Linked DNA regions of Homo sapiens. The protein of the gene in region 2 interacts with the protein of the main gene of each other region in a biochemical or structural test. Each region holds a gene or a part of one and is shown on either strand. Other genes may lie near its edges.

Region 1 (4,296 bases), on a different chromosome or scaffold from region 2:
ACTGTCCTTCCTGGGCCTCATTTTCCCCTCTGAGGTCCCTTCCAACACCAATACCCTGAACCGAATTCCAAAAATTACATCAAAGTCACAAACTTACTACATATGAAAAAGATGAAAAACATCTGTACTATAAGAATTTGAAGACCTTAAAAGATAAACTTGAACAATTATTAGGTACTCATCAAAATAATTTTTTTTTTTTGGACGGAGTCTCGCTCTGTCGCCCAGGCTAGAGTGCTGGAGTGCAGTGGCGCGATCTGGGCTCACTGCGAGCTCCGCCTCCCGGGTTCACGCCATTCTCCTGCCTCAGCCTCCTGAGTAGCTGGGACTACAGGCGCCCGCCACCACGCCCGGCTAATTTTTTGTATTTTTAGTAGAGACGGGGTTTCACCCTGTAAGCCCGGATGGTCTCGATCTCCTGACTTCGTGATCCGCCCGCCTCAGCCTCCCAAAGTGCTGGGATTACAGGCGTGAGCCACCGCGCCCGGCCTAAAACTAAAATTTTTTTAAAGTAAATTAGAAACCATAAAACTACCCCGACAAAAAGCCTAATATTAATTATATTACTGCTTCATATTTTCTCCACCTGCTATTGAGGAAATAGCTCATTTTTTTCTAACCTTGTTAAAGCATGAATTTATCATGCTTTTTTCTTCTTTTTCTTTTTTCCCAGACAGAGTCTCGCTTTATCACCCAGACTGGAGTGTAGTGGCGCAATCACCCAGACTGGCGCAATCTCAGCTCACTGCAACCTCCCCCTCCTGGGTTAAAGCGATCCTCCTACCTCAGCCTCCTGAGTAGCTGGGATTACAGGCACGCGCCACGACGCCCGGCTAATTTTTGTATTTTTAGTAGAGACGGGGGTTTCACCATGTTGGCCAAATTGGTCTCGAACTCCTGACCTCAGGTGACCCGCCCGCCTCGGCCTCCCAAAGTGCTGGGATTACCCCTGAGCCGCCGGGTGGTGGGCCACCGCGCCCCGCCTAATTTTTTTTTCATAAGAAACACTGGGCCGGGCGCGGTGGCTCACGCCTGTAATCCCAGCACTTTGGGAGGCCGAGGCGGGTGGATCATGAGGTCAGGAGATCGAGACCATCCTGGCTAACAAGGTGAAACCCCGTCTCTACTAAAAATACAAAAAATTAGCCGGGCGCGGTGGCGGGCGCCTGTAGTCCCAGCTACTCGGGAGGCTGAGGCAGGAGAATGGCGTGAACCCGGGAAGCGGAGCTTGCAGTGAGCCGAGATTGCGCCACTGCAGTCCGCAGTCCGGCCTGGGCGACAGAGCGAGACTCCGTCTCAAAAAAAAAAAAAAAAAAAAAAAGAAACACTGGACTTTTTCTGGTGCCCAAAAACAAAACTGTCTTGTCATCGTTGAAGCCGAGTAAGATTAGTCAACAGGATAATCACTTTCGAAAGAGAAACTTTACAGTGACAGAAAAGTGAAAAGGAGTCCCCCTCATCAGGATGACACAACCTTAAAGTACAACCCGACAAACCTCCACCCACTTGAAACCCACTAACTGGAAACTCCAGACAAAAACTTATTTTCAAAACTGTTACAATTCAAAGACTCCAATGACAGTGCAGTGGAAAATTCACGGGGACTGTATAATTTTCACGGCCTTCTGCAGTGAGTGCCAAATCTGGTCAGGGCCCCATCTTTGACTCCCCTCATCACTTTCCCTTTCAAATATGACTTGAAACGCATCAGAACACACCAAGCCTCTCCAACTACAATGCTGCTACCCTTTTATTCACAAACGCCTCTGTCCTCATAAAGGACATAAATTACTTTTCAAAAAAGGCATGGCCCCGGGATACAAGCCCTTTCCAAGGCTAAGGGAGTTCCTACTCTTCTTGGTGCCGCCCAAGTTCACTTTATTACTTCATATCCCATCCAGACGCGCAGAGCTGCAATCTGACTCAGGGGGCCCAGCCCAGGGCTGGGGTATAACGGTTTTGAGGAACTAGTATCACAAGCTTCTTGGGAAGTGGCCAGATAAACTCACCAAGTTTTTGTTTTCCTTTTTTTTAAGTCTGGGTGGAACTTACTTTCACTAGGACGTGGGACGCCTTCCCTCCCTAATGGGTGCCAGAGGACAAGCTTTCCTTTATTTTAAACGAAGTCACTCAACCTACACCAAACTGAGAACACACAACCCTCCCTCTTTCTGGTCGCCGAAGACGTGGCCACTGCGCAGCGGGCCGTAGGTTTGGACCCCTCATGGCTCAGAGCCCCTCATCCGTTTCCCCCCTCCAGTCCAAAGCCCCCTTCGCCCGCGCCCGCCCTGGTCCTCCCGGCCGACACTCGCCCGGCTCCCGGGACAAAGCGGGGCTGAAGGAAGGTTTCTTCTGGGGTCCCCGACGACAGCGGGCGCGGGAAAGCGCCCCGGGCTCGGCGCGCACTCACCCGACAGCTCGTCCGGCTCCAGCCCGGTCTCCGTGTCCAGTCCGCAGATGACAAAGTAGTCGGCGAAGCGACTGGGCGCCGAGCCCCCTCCGCCGCCGCCGCCACTCATGGCGCCGGGGCCGAGACCGGCCGGGCAGTGCGGAGCGGCACCGAGCCCCCGCAACCCGGGCGCCCGCCCGTCCGCCCTCAGGCCGCCCCTCCCGCCGCCGCCGCTACCGCGGCTCGGGCCGCCGCCCCCGGCCCTGGCCCGGTCCCCTCGGCCGCCGCGGCTGCCGTGACGGGGCGGGGGGGCACCGGGCCGCCCCGCACCGCATCCTGGATGCCTTCCCCTCCGCGCCGCCGCCGCTGCAGCTAGCCGAGAGCGCCGCGGCCCGAGCGAGCCTGGAGAAGGGCGGAGAGCGCGTGGACAGCCCCCACCGTGACCCTCCTCCTACCGCGCCTGCGCAGGCGCCGTCTGGGAGGGGGCGGGCTCCTGGGGGAAAGGATGACGTGATGCTCTTCGGACCCCGCCGGCCGCAGCTTCCCGGGAGGTCGCCGCAGCGCAGCCGGTGACTGCTTGGTCGCCCGCAACTGCCACTCCCCCGGGATTGAGACTCCTTTAGGGAGGGCTGAGGAGGTGCGAGAAGAGTGGGCGCAGCCTGCAGAGCCGGGCATTTGGCCCATGCTCTGCCCCCAACCACCCACCCAGCAAGCAGAGGTCCAGAGATCTTAGCGCGGCCTTGCCATGAGGATGGGGTCTCACGACTGAGCTCGGAAGCTCACCTAATCCTAGCTGCAGCGTGTCAGCCTAGACCCCAGACAGGGCCTTCTCCCTGTCCTCTCTTTTGGCAGGGGCGGATGAGCCGGTTTTATATTTACCCTTATTTTACAGACGGGGAAACTGAGTCTCAGAAAGAAGCAAGGACTTATCCAAGGTTACGCTGAGTCTAAGAGACATAAGCCTGGTCTGGAATCCTGGGCTTGTGGTCAGCTCCCCGTTCCTCGCCGCTCCCACCTCCCAGCCTGCCCTTTTCCCACGCTCTCTCCTTTTTTCTCTGGAAGCCTCCAGAGGCGCCTGCCATTTGGGAGCTCCTCTTCCTCTTCACTCTGTGAAAACTCTCAGATCCACCCCTAAACCTGTTTTCCTGTAAGAGGATAGGGAGGAGGCGAAGGGAAACTTACCTATTGGTCCTTGTCCTAGGACCCTCCGATTTCCTTTCCCATAGAAGCTAGGCAGATGTGTCTTTGTTGGAAACTGGAGATCAGAGGCCAGAAAGGCAACACAGGTATAGTGGTCACTAGCATGGGCTCTAGAAAAAAATGCTCGGATTTCAATCCTGACGATCATTTACTTTTGACCTTGAGCAAGTTAATCTCTAAGTGCCTGGCGTCATGGTTTTTGAGACAATTACATAAGGTAAATGCAAGTACAGGTAAAACAATGAGAATACTGCCTGGAACATGGAAATCACTCAGTAAATATTACAGATTTTTTTTTTCAAGACGGAGTTCTGTCTTGTTGCCCAGGCTGGAGTGCAATGGCGTAATCTCGGCTCACTGCACCTCTGCCTCCCAGGTTCAAGTGATTCTCCTGCCTCAGCCACCCAAGTAGCTAGGATTACAGGCGCGCACCACCACACTCGGCTAATTTTTTGTATTCAGTAGAGACAGGGATTCACCGTGTTGGTCAGGCTGGTCTCGAACTCCTGACCTCAGGTGATCCGCCCTCCTCTGCCTCCTAAAGTGCTGGGATTACAGGCATGAGCCAATGAGCCCCCAGCCTGGATTATTATTATTGTTCCAGAAGGAAGTACTCTTACGGTTTGTTCTGGGAGGCTGCCACTAAGAGCTGTAGAAGGCAGCTGGCTTCCCCAAAGGCTGAGCCTAGGCTCTCTCCTAGGTTCTCC
Region 2 (5,061 bases):
TTCTTTTTCCTTTATGTGGTTTTCTAATAAATAATGCATTGTTGATTTCTGTTCTTGAGTCCCATGTGACTCTCTTCCTGAATTTATGAACCCAGACTGTTGTTATTTCTAATGATGATCTATTTTCTTTTGTTGACCTATTTTATGCTTTTTGGTGTTATTTCTTTTATTACAGGAATTACTCTGTTTTCTTCTACTTTTAAATAAATTTGGGAGATGGGCTGGGTGTGGTGGCTCACACCTGTAATTTCAGCGTTTTGGAAGACCGAGGCGGGAGGACGGCGTGGGACCAGGAGTTCATGACTGGCCTGGGCAACACAGTGAGACCCTGTCTCTATTTTAAACAACGACAACAACATATTTAAAAAATAAAAATAAGAAAATAAATTTGGAAGATGAACACATTCTATTTTAATTCTGTTAGTGATCAGTAAAACTGGCTTAAAAGCTGAGTTTCCTTTGGTTCCCTTTTGTTTTATAAAAAATGTCTGTGTGTACCTTTGTCAACAGCCTGAATCCTATGAATCACAGGTTCCCCTGGGGAAGATGGGGGTTTGAGTTTGGTTTCTTACTTGTGTTTATAGGGTTCTGGGCAACTTGGGAGGGCGAGACACTATGCCCTCATGGGATAACACTAATTGCTCCAAATTCCAGCACATGGCTGGGGGTGGTCAGAGAGCTGGTTCCTTCACCCACAGCCACCTCTCCACTGCCTTCCACTGCTGGGAGTTTTGAGCTTTTGTGTTGGCAGTTAAATACACTCAGAGTCCCTCCTCCTCAGTTTCTGGCATGTTTCTCCATGACTACCAAATGTTACTAGAATAAGAGGGTGAGACAGAGTTCAGCGAGGGTGGCCACCCTGATCCCTGCTTGCTGCTCCGAGCCTGAGAAGGGGGCTGCCTGCTGTGCCCTGTTATCCACGACAAGCACAGGCCTCGCCCTGTCAGTCCTCAGAGACTCAGTTGACTGCTTTTGGTTTGTGAAACACACAATCATCTCGACCAAGGAAACAAGGGCTTGTGTCTCTGCCTCATTTCCTCCACTGCTCAGAGGCAGGGGCAGCCCAATAGGCGACATGGCAGTGGGATTCAGCCTCCAGAGGGTCTTACCTCAAACTGGATCAGCACCGTCCCGCTTTCGAGGCCCTTCTTTAGCTGTGCCATGGATCCCTCCAAAGTGTCCCCACCCTCCGGACACATGGGGAAAATGGCTTCGGGGAAAAGCTGGTTCAGTTCATCTTCAGACTTGAAGTCAGCAAATGAGCGGACAGCTGTAACGTACAAGACAGTGCATCTGACTTGTGTAGCAATACTCAGGTTTATCCGTCTCCCTCAAACAAATCACACCTATGACACCTGAATGCAGATGGTTCAAAACATCTTATTAAATGATTAAGCTACATGGTAATCATTTTCACCAAAGATACTACTTCTAGGTGAATGATTCAATATGTGTTAATTACATAAAATGACATACTAATCTTCCTGGTTAGTTTTAAATAATGGTGTTTAACACTCAGAGGCTTTTGTCAAAGGTAAAGAAAAGAGAAAGAATGTTATTTAAAAAAGCATATTGTTTCTGCTTGCTCTTTCTGACCGGGTTATTCTTCTACCCATCCCGACTCCCCTTTCTTTCTCAGGTTTTTTCATTTACTTCCCTAAAATGGGCATTTCCTCAGGCATGAGGGTGAGGTCCCAAGCTTTTCCTGTGACACCATCATTCCTGAGAGCTCAATCCCTAACTCAGGGCCGTTTCTATGTGGGAGGCTCCCACGTAAATATCGTAGTCCTAGCATCTCTTCTGTGCTTCAGCCTTACCTCTTTAGTGCACGTTTTCCCTTCATGTTAAATTCAATACAGGTGAAAGCAAAGCTAGGACCACCCCCCCACAACTCCCAACCTTGCACAGGTGGGGAACCGGAGAGATCTGGTAAGGCCTCACGGAGGAGGTGGGGTCAGAGCTGGTCCTGGTGGCTCTGGACTGAGAGTTGCAGTGGGAGCAGAGCCGAGGCAGGAGCACAGCAGTATGGAGTGTCAGCCAAACGTGTGAGGCAGGCAGAGACGCAGGGCTTTGCAGACACAACCTTCATTTACTTTCAGTATTTTACAGCTGTGCACGGTGTTCAAGGAACTTGACGTATTATTTTATAACAACAACTATAAAGACAACAGTGTGATGCTCAGTAGAGGCTGTCCTTCAAACCTCTGCTCCCATCAGGCAGCAATGCAGGTACTTTCCAGTCTAAGTGCCATTGATTGATTGAATGATTGAGATGGAGTCTCACTCTGTCACCCAGGCTGGAGTGTAGTGGCACAGTCTTAGCTCACTGCAACATCCACTTCCTGGGTTCAAGCGATTCTCCTGCCTCAGCCTCCTGAGTAGCTGGGACTATACCCACATGGCACCATGCCTGGCTATTGTATTTTTAGCAGAGATGAGGTTTTACCATGTTGGTCAAGCTGGTCTTGAACTCCTGACCTCAAGTGATACACCCACCTTGGCCTTCCAAAGTGCTGGGATTACAGGTGTGAGCCACTGTGCCTGGCCCCAAGTGCCATTTAATCTTCACAGCAACCCTGTGAAGTCGGGACCACTGCTGTCCTCCTCCACACCTGAGCCAGCTGAACCACAGACTGGTTATGTAACCCCTGCAAGGTCCCCCAGCCCGCAGAGGCAGAGTGAGGAATCACCCGAGACAGTCAGACCCTGCTCTCCTCACTGCCTCCCCGACAAAATCAAACACGCACGAATAAAATATCACCAGATCCTTTAAGAAGGGGCTGAAAATGCAAATGTCTGCAGAGTCATGCCACTTAGAGAGTGCGTGATGTGGGCTGCGCTGGGCCTGGGAGGAACTGGGAGCTGGGGGCTCATGTCCTGTATAAAGGGGCTGCAGGGGCGCTGTCTCCCCCCAGAAGACTGGCCACATGGGGACAGGCCTCCTGGGGGCAGATCTTCACATTTTTCAAGTGAGAAGCCAAACATTCGGTTATTACCTGAAGATTCTTGATTTTCAAATGTTGGCTACAAACTCAACATTTTCAAGAGCAGATAAAGGGCTGGAGCAGGCGCAGCTTGGCTAGGACAGCTTCCCTATGGCTCCTCCCCCCAGGTGGCCATTACCTCTCCTCCTGATCACCAGGGCCAGCTCCCGTGAGTGGGACTCCCGGCTGGCTTTGATGAACATCACCACTTGGTCATGCGTGTGTTCTGAGATGTCCCGGCCATTGATTAACACGATTTGATCCCCTTCGTTCAGCTTAGGAATGCAGGTGTCCGCCTGGGTGGTGGGGAAAAGCGAGTTTCTCCTGTTACCATAACACAGTCCTTGGGGGAAGAACGCTGACTCGCTCTGCTCCCAGACACCTGGGACCATGATCAAGTTTGCCTTCTCTCCCTCGGGTAGTACTGTCATTATTTGTATAATGCATCCACTGCTATGTGGACATGGTAGATGGTTGTAAGATATAAAGAAGTACTGCTCAGAATATAAGTTATGAAACATTTCAGAATAAGGATATAAAAATTGCTGAAGCCATTTCTCCGTGGTAGTCAACCTTCACTTATTATAATATAACTATACCATTTCCAGCCTTTTGTTTCCTAGATGTACTGTTAGGAAATGATTTGCCAGCTAGAGGTGAGTATTTATCTGTCTTGCAAAGGTGAAAGCTTTTGTAAGCTTCACAACAGAGGCAAAAACCATTATGGAGAGAAGCAATGAATTGAACAGCACAGGAAAGAAAGCCTTCTGAATTTACAGAAACTGTAAACAGTAACAAAAGTTAAATGACAAGAGCTTAAGGACTACCTCAGAGTAAAATCCCAACGTGGTTCACTGTAAGGAGGCACAGTGACTCCTACTGCTTTAAAAAAGCAGATGATTAAAAGGTAACTATGGAGCCAGGTGAGGTGGGACACACCTGTGGTCTCAGCGACTTGGGAGGCAGAGGCAGGAGGATCGCTTGAGCCTAGTTTGAGGCTGCAGTGATCATACCACTGCATTCCAGCCTGGGTGACAGAGCAAGAGCGAGACCCTGTCTCTTAAAAAAGAAAAATAGGTTAACTATGGAAAGTGATGAACATGTTAATTTGTTTGACTGCAGTACTATATGTATAACAAGACATCATGTTGTACACCTTGAGTATGCACAATAAAAAAATTAAACGAAAAAATTACTTGATATTATTTTAAAAACAATAAAATAAATTTATTTTATTTTTGAGACAGAGTCTCACTCTGTCGCTCAGGCTGGAGTACAGCGGCGTGATCTCAGCTCACTGCAACCTCTGCCTCCTGGGTTCAAGGAATTCTCCTGCCTCAGCCTCCTGAGTAGCTGGGATCACACCTGTGTGCCACCACACCCAGATAATTTTTGTATTTTTTGTAGAGATGGGTTTCACCCTGTTGGCCAGGCAGGTTGGTCTCAAACTCCTGGCCTCAAGTGATTCACCCTCCTCGGCCTCCCAAAGTGCTGGGATTACAGGTGTGAGCCACTATGCCTGGCCTAAAAACAATAAAATAAATTTGAAAGAAAAACAAAGCAAATGCTCTTCTTAGGAGGCCTACACAGATGACAAAAGGGGCACTGGTGGAAAGATGGTGAGAAGAGGCACAGGGCCCACGTGCCCACTTAGAGTGAGCAGAACAGCAGACTGCCTAAGTTTCCTTCTCTTGAAAAGGACTTCTCAAAATTGAATGCACACTAACCACTCAAGGCTCTTGTTAAAAATGCAGATTCCGGTTCAGCAGGCCTAAGCTGAGGCCAGAGATGCTGCATTTCTAATGAGGTCCCAGGTAACATGGGTGCTATGGCTTCAAAGACCACACTGAGCCGCAAGGTTATAGAAAACATGGTGATGTATATCTAAGCACATTCTTTGCTCTGGCAAAAAAAGAAACAGGACTCAGAAACAGAAACCTGTTAGAATTAGGGGGAAACAAACAAACACGAGGAATAACATGGAATGTATTTACTTACAGGTGACTCTGGGTTTATCCTTGATACCACAAGAGGCATCTTTTGATCCACTCCTCCCTGTAAACATTTTAAAATAAAA
Region 3 (3,500 bases), on a different chromosome or scaffold from region 2:
AAACCAGTCCGAAAAGCCTACATGCTGTATGATGCCAATATATGGCATTCTGAGAAAGGCAAAACTATGAAGACAGTGAAAAGATCAGTAGTTGCCAGTGGTTTGGGGATGAGGAGAGGGATAAATGGGTGAAGCACAGGAGATTTTTAGTGCAGTAAAACTATTCTGTCTGATACTATAATGATGGATACATGAATTTGTGAAAACCTACAGAACTCTACAGCACAAAGACTGAACCTTAATGTAAACTATGAACTTTAGTTAATGTATGAATAGAGGTTCACTAATTGTAACAAATGTATCACACTCATGCCAAATGTTAGTGAACAGGGAAACTGTTCAGGTGAGGTGGGCATATGAGAACTCTGTACTCTTTGTTAAAAAATAAAGACTATTAATTTAAAAAAATCAATAAATGATGGTTAAAAGAGGGAAAAAGTGCCAACTGAATGTCAGCCATCATTATTATTATTGTAGCTAATCCTTATGAAGTGGATAAGATTTGTTTTATGCCCTCCTTTATGTCTCTATTGTTTCTTTGTTTCTGATTATAAAAGCTCTATGAACTCACAGACCAAGCATTATTTAATTCTCTTAACAGTAAGAAAAAGGAAGTTCAGAGAATTGTCAAAGATTAATGGCAAATAAATGGTAAAGCTGAGACAAAATCCTAGTGTTCCAAATTTTTTGTATTCCACCTTGTTGTCGTACAATGATCAGAATTTTTATTAATTCTCTGTTTCAGCAACTTTCCACTTTGGCTGAAATGTATGATTTTCTAACTCAGCAAAGACAGCAAAGACTAAGACTCATAGTGATGGGGCTCAAGCCATGGCCTGCAATCCAAGGTTGGGGTAAATGAGCCACCTGGGCGGGTACAGAGGAATTGGCTCCCCATTTTAAATGCAGAATGAATAAAATGAACTCAAATTAAGCCATTTTAATATTTTCATAGTGCAAGTGAACTTTGTTCCCCAAGTTATAGAACTAACTTCCTGTGCTTTTAATGGTTTTATGATGTTACAGACTTTTTTTCTCTTCTCAGAAAATCGAGAAGGAAGCTGGCATAGGCCACACCCCATCCTCCTCTCTGAAGCTATGCTTATAGCTTGTGACATTATGTAGCAAACCAAATAATATTTAAGGTCGCCTTCAGCTCCTTTAGGGATGGGGGATCTATCCCGTTAACAGATCCTCAAAGTCATGTTGTTGCTAATCTATATTAGTTATCCCTCCTGCCTCATCCTTCTGAGAGGGTTCCTTTCTCTAGGGAAGGAGGGAGGTCCTCAAATTGTATACGACAATGCATGGGGAAGCACTTCCTCCACTGACCTCTTTCCAGCAGTGATTCATAATCTGGTAGACGTGTGTGGAGGCCAGCCGGGGCTTGTACAACCGAAATCCGGTACTGATGTCTTCCACCACCTCTGAGTTGCTTCGGTTTTCATACGGGATTTTGCCTTCACTGAAAACTTCCCACATCAGCACACCTACAAGAAATGGTGAGCACAGCACAGTGAATGACAAAGCCCACAGACAGCAAACAAACCAACCTGCCTCTAGAAATTACAGACTCCTTGCATTAGGATTCATGTGCTACCTCCAGAAGTGCATCAAGTCTACCTGAGGCTTATTAGGCCTGTCCTATTTTTAAAGAACTGAAATTTCCCAACCTTTGTAGTGGAGAAGGATTTTCAAGATGGACCCTTTGTTGTACCAAACTCAAATGCTACAACTAAGAGTTGTAGACTCAAATGCCAAGATGCAGGATGTAAATGAATGGAGTGCAGGAGGTGTGACACTATTGGGATTGGGGAGGATTGTGGAAAATGAGATAAACAGTTCTGTCTTAAGGAGACAGCTATGATTTGACTCCAACCAAAGTATGGCACATGAAAATGAGGGATCAGAATTGGCACATTTTCTGATTTTTTTAAAAAAGACGTCAAAAATTAAGAGTTGAACTTCTTGAATTTAAAAAATGCCATGTAGACCAAGCAAAACACATCTTTTGCTTGTCTATTTTTGACCTCTGATTTAATCCCTTTCTTTTCCTCTTCTGCCCTTGGTAGAAATGTGACACCTAGCTTTGTCTTTATCATGTGCTGATATATTCACAGGTTGTCAGAGCAAGAAGGCTGCTTGCAAATCAGCTAATTCAGAGCTTTTCAAAGGTTGTTCCAGAGAATCTTAGAGTAGACATTCCCAAAGCATGATCCCCAAAACACCTGAATAAAAATCATCTCAGAGTCTTGTTCAAATGGCAGATTCCTGGGCCCTAGCCCAAACCCAGTGGATCAGAATCTCTAGATGTTACTCAGAGGTGCCTCAGGAGTTGGAAATTCAGAACCTGACCCTAAATAAGAATGCTTATCACCCCAAGACACCATAATTTTTAGTGAAAATTTTTTTGAAAATGTGCCGATGCTGAAACATGGTTTCAGAATGATTGCTTTAATACACAGATGAGAAATGTATAGATAAAAAAATTGAGCAAAGTACAAAGAGGTTGACTTGTTCTGAATAGCACACTGCTAATTAGGGCAAAGAAACTTAAAACGTAGGACAAAGTCCAATGGGCTGATGCAGGCATGGAGTTTTCAGCTCATCCAGGTTTCTGTTGCTTAGGCTGGTACCCCCAGTTTTTTCACACTTTTTTCCATTGATCTCTCAATTCTGCATCCATCCATCAACCTCATTTCTGGACTCTCTTCAGATAATATATCCTAGACAGGGACTAATTTCAGCCCAACCCTGTAATGGTAATATGCCCCAGGAAATTCCCAGGCTGACACCCTTTGGCTGAATAAACCCCATTCAGAGTCAGAAGGTGAATGTGCTAAAGTGGCCATTGCTCCAAATGTCTCATTGTGGGGCCCTTGCTTGCTTGGTGCAGTGTGATCAGTTTCATCACCCATAGTGAGATGACTGCACATCAGCCCCAACCTTCCTAGTTATACACACTGGGGAGAGGGGAGTCATCCAAAAATGCTGTTAGTACAATTTCTTTCAAGTCCATTCTGTAACTTAAACCTGGTTAACAAAGTAGCTGCAAGGGTTGGTTAATAGGGTACTGTTTTAAGAAATAGGTAGGACTCATAATGAACAAACCACTTGGCTCCTAGAGATGGATAGACTAAAATGCTGCAGAAGATTTTTAACACTCATTCTTCTCCTAAAAGATTTACCTAGCCAAACTCCCCCCTGGTTTCTACTACTAGTAAGCCCTTGTCAAACCCTTCCTTCATACCGAATGGCAAAAATCAATCTTCAAGTAGTTTCTGTCCACAGTATAATTCTTGTAATCCAAATCAAAGAGGTTGTCTGGTATATTTTTTTGCACACTTTAGTATGCACAAACTATGACTTCAGGTGACATGGCAAATCCAGCAAGAACATTTGGCACATCCTGCAATACCAACATCATTCATCCCTTCATGGCCATTTGCACTTTTTAGAAATTCTAATTCCTTATGATGGCCTACCAGCTTCATTGCCTG
Region 4 (3,500 bases), on a different chromosome or scaffold from region 2:
TGGTCTTAGTTCTTAGTTATAAAACCTCATCCCCTACTTGTTTACTGTTCTATGTAAAAGAAATGATAAATTAAGAAATTTGTTCTGTTTCCTGTGGTCCTCATACTACCTAATGCTCAAAGGCCTTCTTGGGGGTCTCATGCTCTACACAAGAGATTCAGAATAAAAATGATGCCTTTTTGCAGTGTCTCCAGTGTTTTGTGCTCTCCCTTTACCTCCCCACCATCTTACACAGAACCCTAAAATGCTCCTGGGATCTCTTGCAAGGGCTTATTCACAGTGGTACAAACTTCCAATGACAGTAATTTATGCCTTAACCCATTTTGGGCCATTTTTCCTGGCCACTTAGGCTAATTATCCAAGTCATTTGTGTACAATCAACAAGGACTTTCTTCCCTCAGCACTCACCCTCCACTTCATCCCACCCAGCGGGGTAGGCATAATGCTCAGTGGGTAACCGTTGTAATTATCTCCATGGCAATAGAGTGCAGTGCTATTAGGCTCATGGGACTCACCATAGATTCAGATGGTGGAGCCATCAAGCCACAATATCCGGCTTTGAACAATCAACCATACTCAGAGGAAGGTCGGAGCTCTCTGTAATGCATGTGATGAGTAATGCCAAACTGCACATAGAGCTGTAGATAGGGATAGGGACATTTTCCCCAACTCGTTATGTAATTTCTTTTTGCTGATGCTCTTACTGCTTCTCTTAAAACTCTCTTAAGTGAGGTCATTCTCCCTTTATATTATACATTTTAGTACCCTTTTATAAAGCTTAGACCTCCTTTTAATCCAATACTATAGCTTTATTTATTTACACCTTAATTTTTGTATTCTGTATACCTGTACTACCAATACAGTAGCCATTGACATGTGTATTGAGCACTTTAAATGCATGTAGCCCCTGGGTTGAGGTGTGCTGCAAGTATAAAATACAAACTCAAGTTTAGAGGCTTAATGTGAAAAAAAGTGCAAAATATTGATAATTTTATCTCTATTACATTCTGAAATAATATTTTGGGTATATTTAGTTAAATTGAATAAAATACAAAATTAAAATAAATTTGACCTGTTACTTTATACCTTTTTAAAATGTAGCTACTAGGAAATTTATAATTGCATGTGTTACATATATCTATTGGAAAACACTGACATAGAGTTAATGGATGATTCCTGTTAACTTTTAAATCTGAAGAACTGATGGCATAATAAAAATTCTGTAACATTTGACCAGTATCTTACGCTTTCTAATATGTGCTCTTATATTGTGATTTGACTTCATATGATTAATTATTCCAGGATAAATGGAATTACTGCCATTCTACAATCTTCTAAACACTATATACAATTTAATTCCAAATGCTACGTCTATTCCAGGATTGCCCTTTAATACACAAAAGAACTAAAAGCAAGCCAAGGAGACAAAAATCCCTGATTGAATGAAATTGTTCATTTCTAGGAGCAAAGTGGCTGCTTTAAGGGCTTAGTGATTCCCAACCTCCTGTCCCTTTATACACACACACACACACACACACACACACACACACACACACACTACATAGTACAAACACCATATTTGGCCAAGACAATTTAAGAAATATTTCTGGATAAAGGAAAAATGGAGTGGGTTATAGGAATGAACATTCCTATTACTAGTGCAAAATACAAAAATAACTCTTAGGCAAAGGGAAACAATTTCCATAACTCCAAGTCAGCCTGATAAGCTGACAGGAAGCTTTTATAAATGTGTGCTTTACGATGATGAGCTAACCCAGATGGAAGCTGTTTAAGAACAGAAGCGATACATGAAGTTGAACACAGAAGTGGAATGAACAGATTTGATGTGGTAAATTAACAACTGATACAAGGAAACACAATATATTGCGCAAACACAGGACCATAAGGCTCAACCAAAAGGCTCAAAAAGAAAAAAAGGAAATAATTACATAGATCCTTGGTCAGGCAACTTCTTTGCCTTTCAAGTTAGGTAACAGTCACGTTTTCAGCCAACCCAAGACTACTAGGGAAGGCTGAATGTGTTCACTTCTGCCATCTGCTGGTTAAAACTAGATTGTTTACACTGCAAAGAATTGTTGGATTCAGGAAGACCTGTAAAATTCATTTAGTATCTCAAGAGACAGTGGATCATCTACAGGAACAGGCTGAGCATGGTTTGTTGTGCTGCATGGGTAGACATGCAGTATTATTAGATGTTTGACATAAAATAATATTTGTAAACAATAAGCCTACCATTTATCGAGTACCTACTACATACCAGGCATTTTATGTGTATTTCTGATCTCCTTACATTCAAGGTAAGTTTTATTGCCCTGTTTTATAGGTAAGAAAGATATAGCTTACAGAAGTTACATCACCTTCCAAATGTCACATAGCTAACAAGAGCTACTACCTGGAGCTGAATCCAGGTATTTCTAATATCAAAGCCCATAATGTTCCAATATACCACACTAAAGAACTGCCTAGCAATGCCTGATAATTAGTAAGTACTTAGTAAATGTTAGTTCCCTTCCATCATCATGGCATTTGGACATCGTTTTCCTATTGCCTGCTAGATTTGCATTAAATAATGCAGTCACTATCAGCCAAAATAAGAAACATTTTATTAATTAGTGACATCTACATAAAATCTCTGGTTTTCCCCTCATCATGTATTAAAGTATAAATAAAAGTCTCCAGTGCTGTTTCAGCCATTCTGGAAGCCAAGGTACACATTGAAAGAAGCCTGATGTCAATGCCAGGGAAGTTTTTTATTTTATTTTATTTTTATTGGCAAGTATGTGATACTCAGAAAACATCTGCCAACATACATTCCTGGAGCCTGTGGCACATGTCTTGACATACTAAACCAGTGACAAGAGAACACTGATGGTGATGCAATGTCACGTGGCAAATGAGAATGAGACAGGACTGGTCAACTGAGGAAGGAGGCAGTGGCAGAGGCAGCAAAGAGGCTTGGTGCTTGCAACAAGGCTGTAGCTTAACAAGAAAAAAATAGGTTGTACCTTCACAGCCACGCTCGATCTGTCCGCTCCGATGAAGAGCATCATTGATGAGGTCTGGCAGGCGTCCATTCAAGTCCACTGATGCTAGACAGCCCTGAAAGCCATCTCGAGAGGCCACGAGCTTTGGGAGGTTGCTGTACATGCCTTGGGCCAGACCAGCCATATAGAGATCACCTGGAAAGGAAAGTAATTAGCAAAAGAGAATGAGTAAAGGATGTGGTGACCATGTCAACTAGTTTGATACACTTGAGATAATTCATCAGATAAGGAATAAGATAGCTGGGGGGGGGGGGGGGGGACAGCATAAATGAGATAAGCACCTGAGTTTCTACCCTGCAAAAAAAGGAAACCAATATTTATTATGTGTCATTCATTTTATATATACCATCTCAAAAATTTATTCATCATAGATGGAGTAAAGATTAACAATATTGTCAACAAAGCAAGCATTTATTGAGTGCTTTTTATGTGCTT

The links. The genes of interacting proteins can lie anywhere in the genome.
Region 1: the proteins of PTPN3 (region 2) and DENND5A interact in a test that uses a peptide from one of them, tested with the Homo sapiens proteins (one large-scale study listed by IntAct).
Region 3: the proteins of PTPN3 (region 2) and ITK interact in a test that uses a peptide from one of them, tested with the Homo sapiens proteins (one large-scale study listed by IntAct).
Region 4: the proteins of PTPN3 (region 2) and NRXN3 interact in a test that uses a peptide from one of them, tested with the Homo sapiens proteins (one large-scale study listed by IntAct).

Annotation. Positions count from the first base shown.
Region 1 is NC_000011.10:9,262,551-9,266,846, forward strand, and holds the start of DENND5A (DENN domain-containing protein 5A), read right to left. Parts: upstream 2,801-4,296; 5' UTR 2,520-2,800; coding exon 2,411-2,519; intron 1-2,410.
Region 2 is NC_000009.12:109,403,339-109,408,399, forward strand, and holds part of PTPN3 (tyrosine-protein phosphatase non-receptor type 3), read right to left. Parts: intron 5,040-5,061; coding exon 4,983-5,039; intron 3,281-4,982; coding exon 3,124-3,280; intron 1,271-3,123; coding exon 1,110-1,270; intron 1-1,109.
Region 3 is NC_000005.10:157,246,840-157,250,339, reverse strand, and holds part of ITK (tyrosine-protein kinase ITK/TSK), read right to left. Parts: intron 1,491-3,500; coding exon 1,333-1,490; intron 1-1,332. UniProt on the Homo sapiens protein: Tyrosine kinase that plays an essential role in regulation of the adaptive immune response. Regulates the development, function and differentiation of conventional T-cells and nonconventional NKT-cells.
Region 4 is NC_000014.9:78,967,873-78,971,372, reverse strand, and holds part of NRXN3 (neurexin 3), read right to left. Parts: intron 3,201-3,500; coding exon 3,027-3,200; intron 1-3,026. UniProt on the Homo sapiens protein: Neuronal cell surface protein that may be involved in cell recognition and cell adhesion. May mediate intracellular signaling. Functions as part of a trans-synaptic complex by binding to cerebellins and postsynaptic GRID1.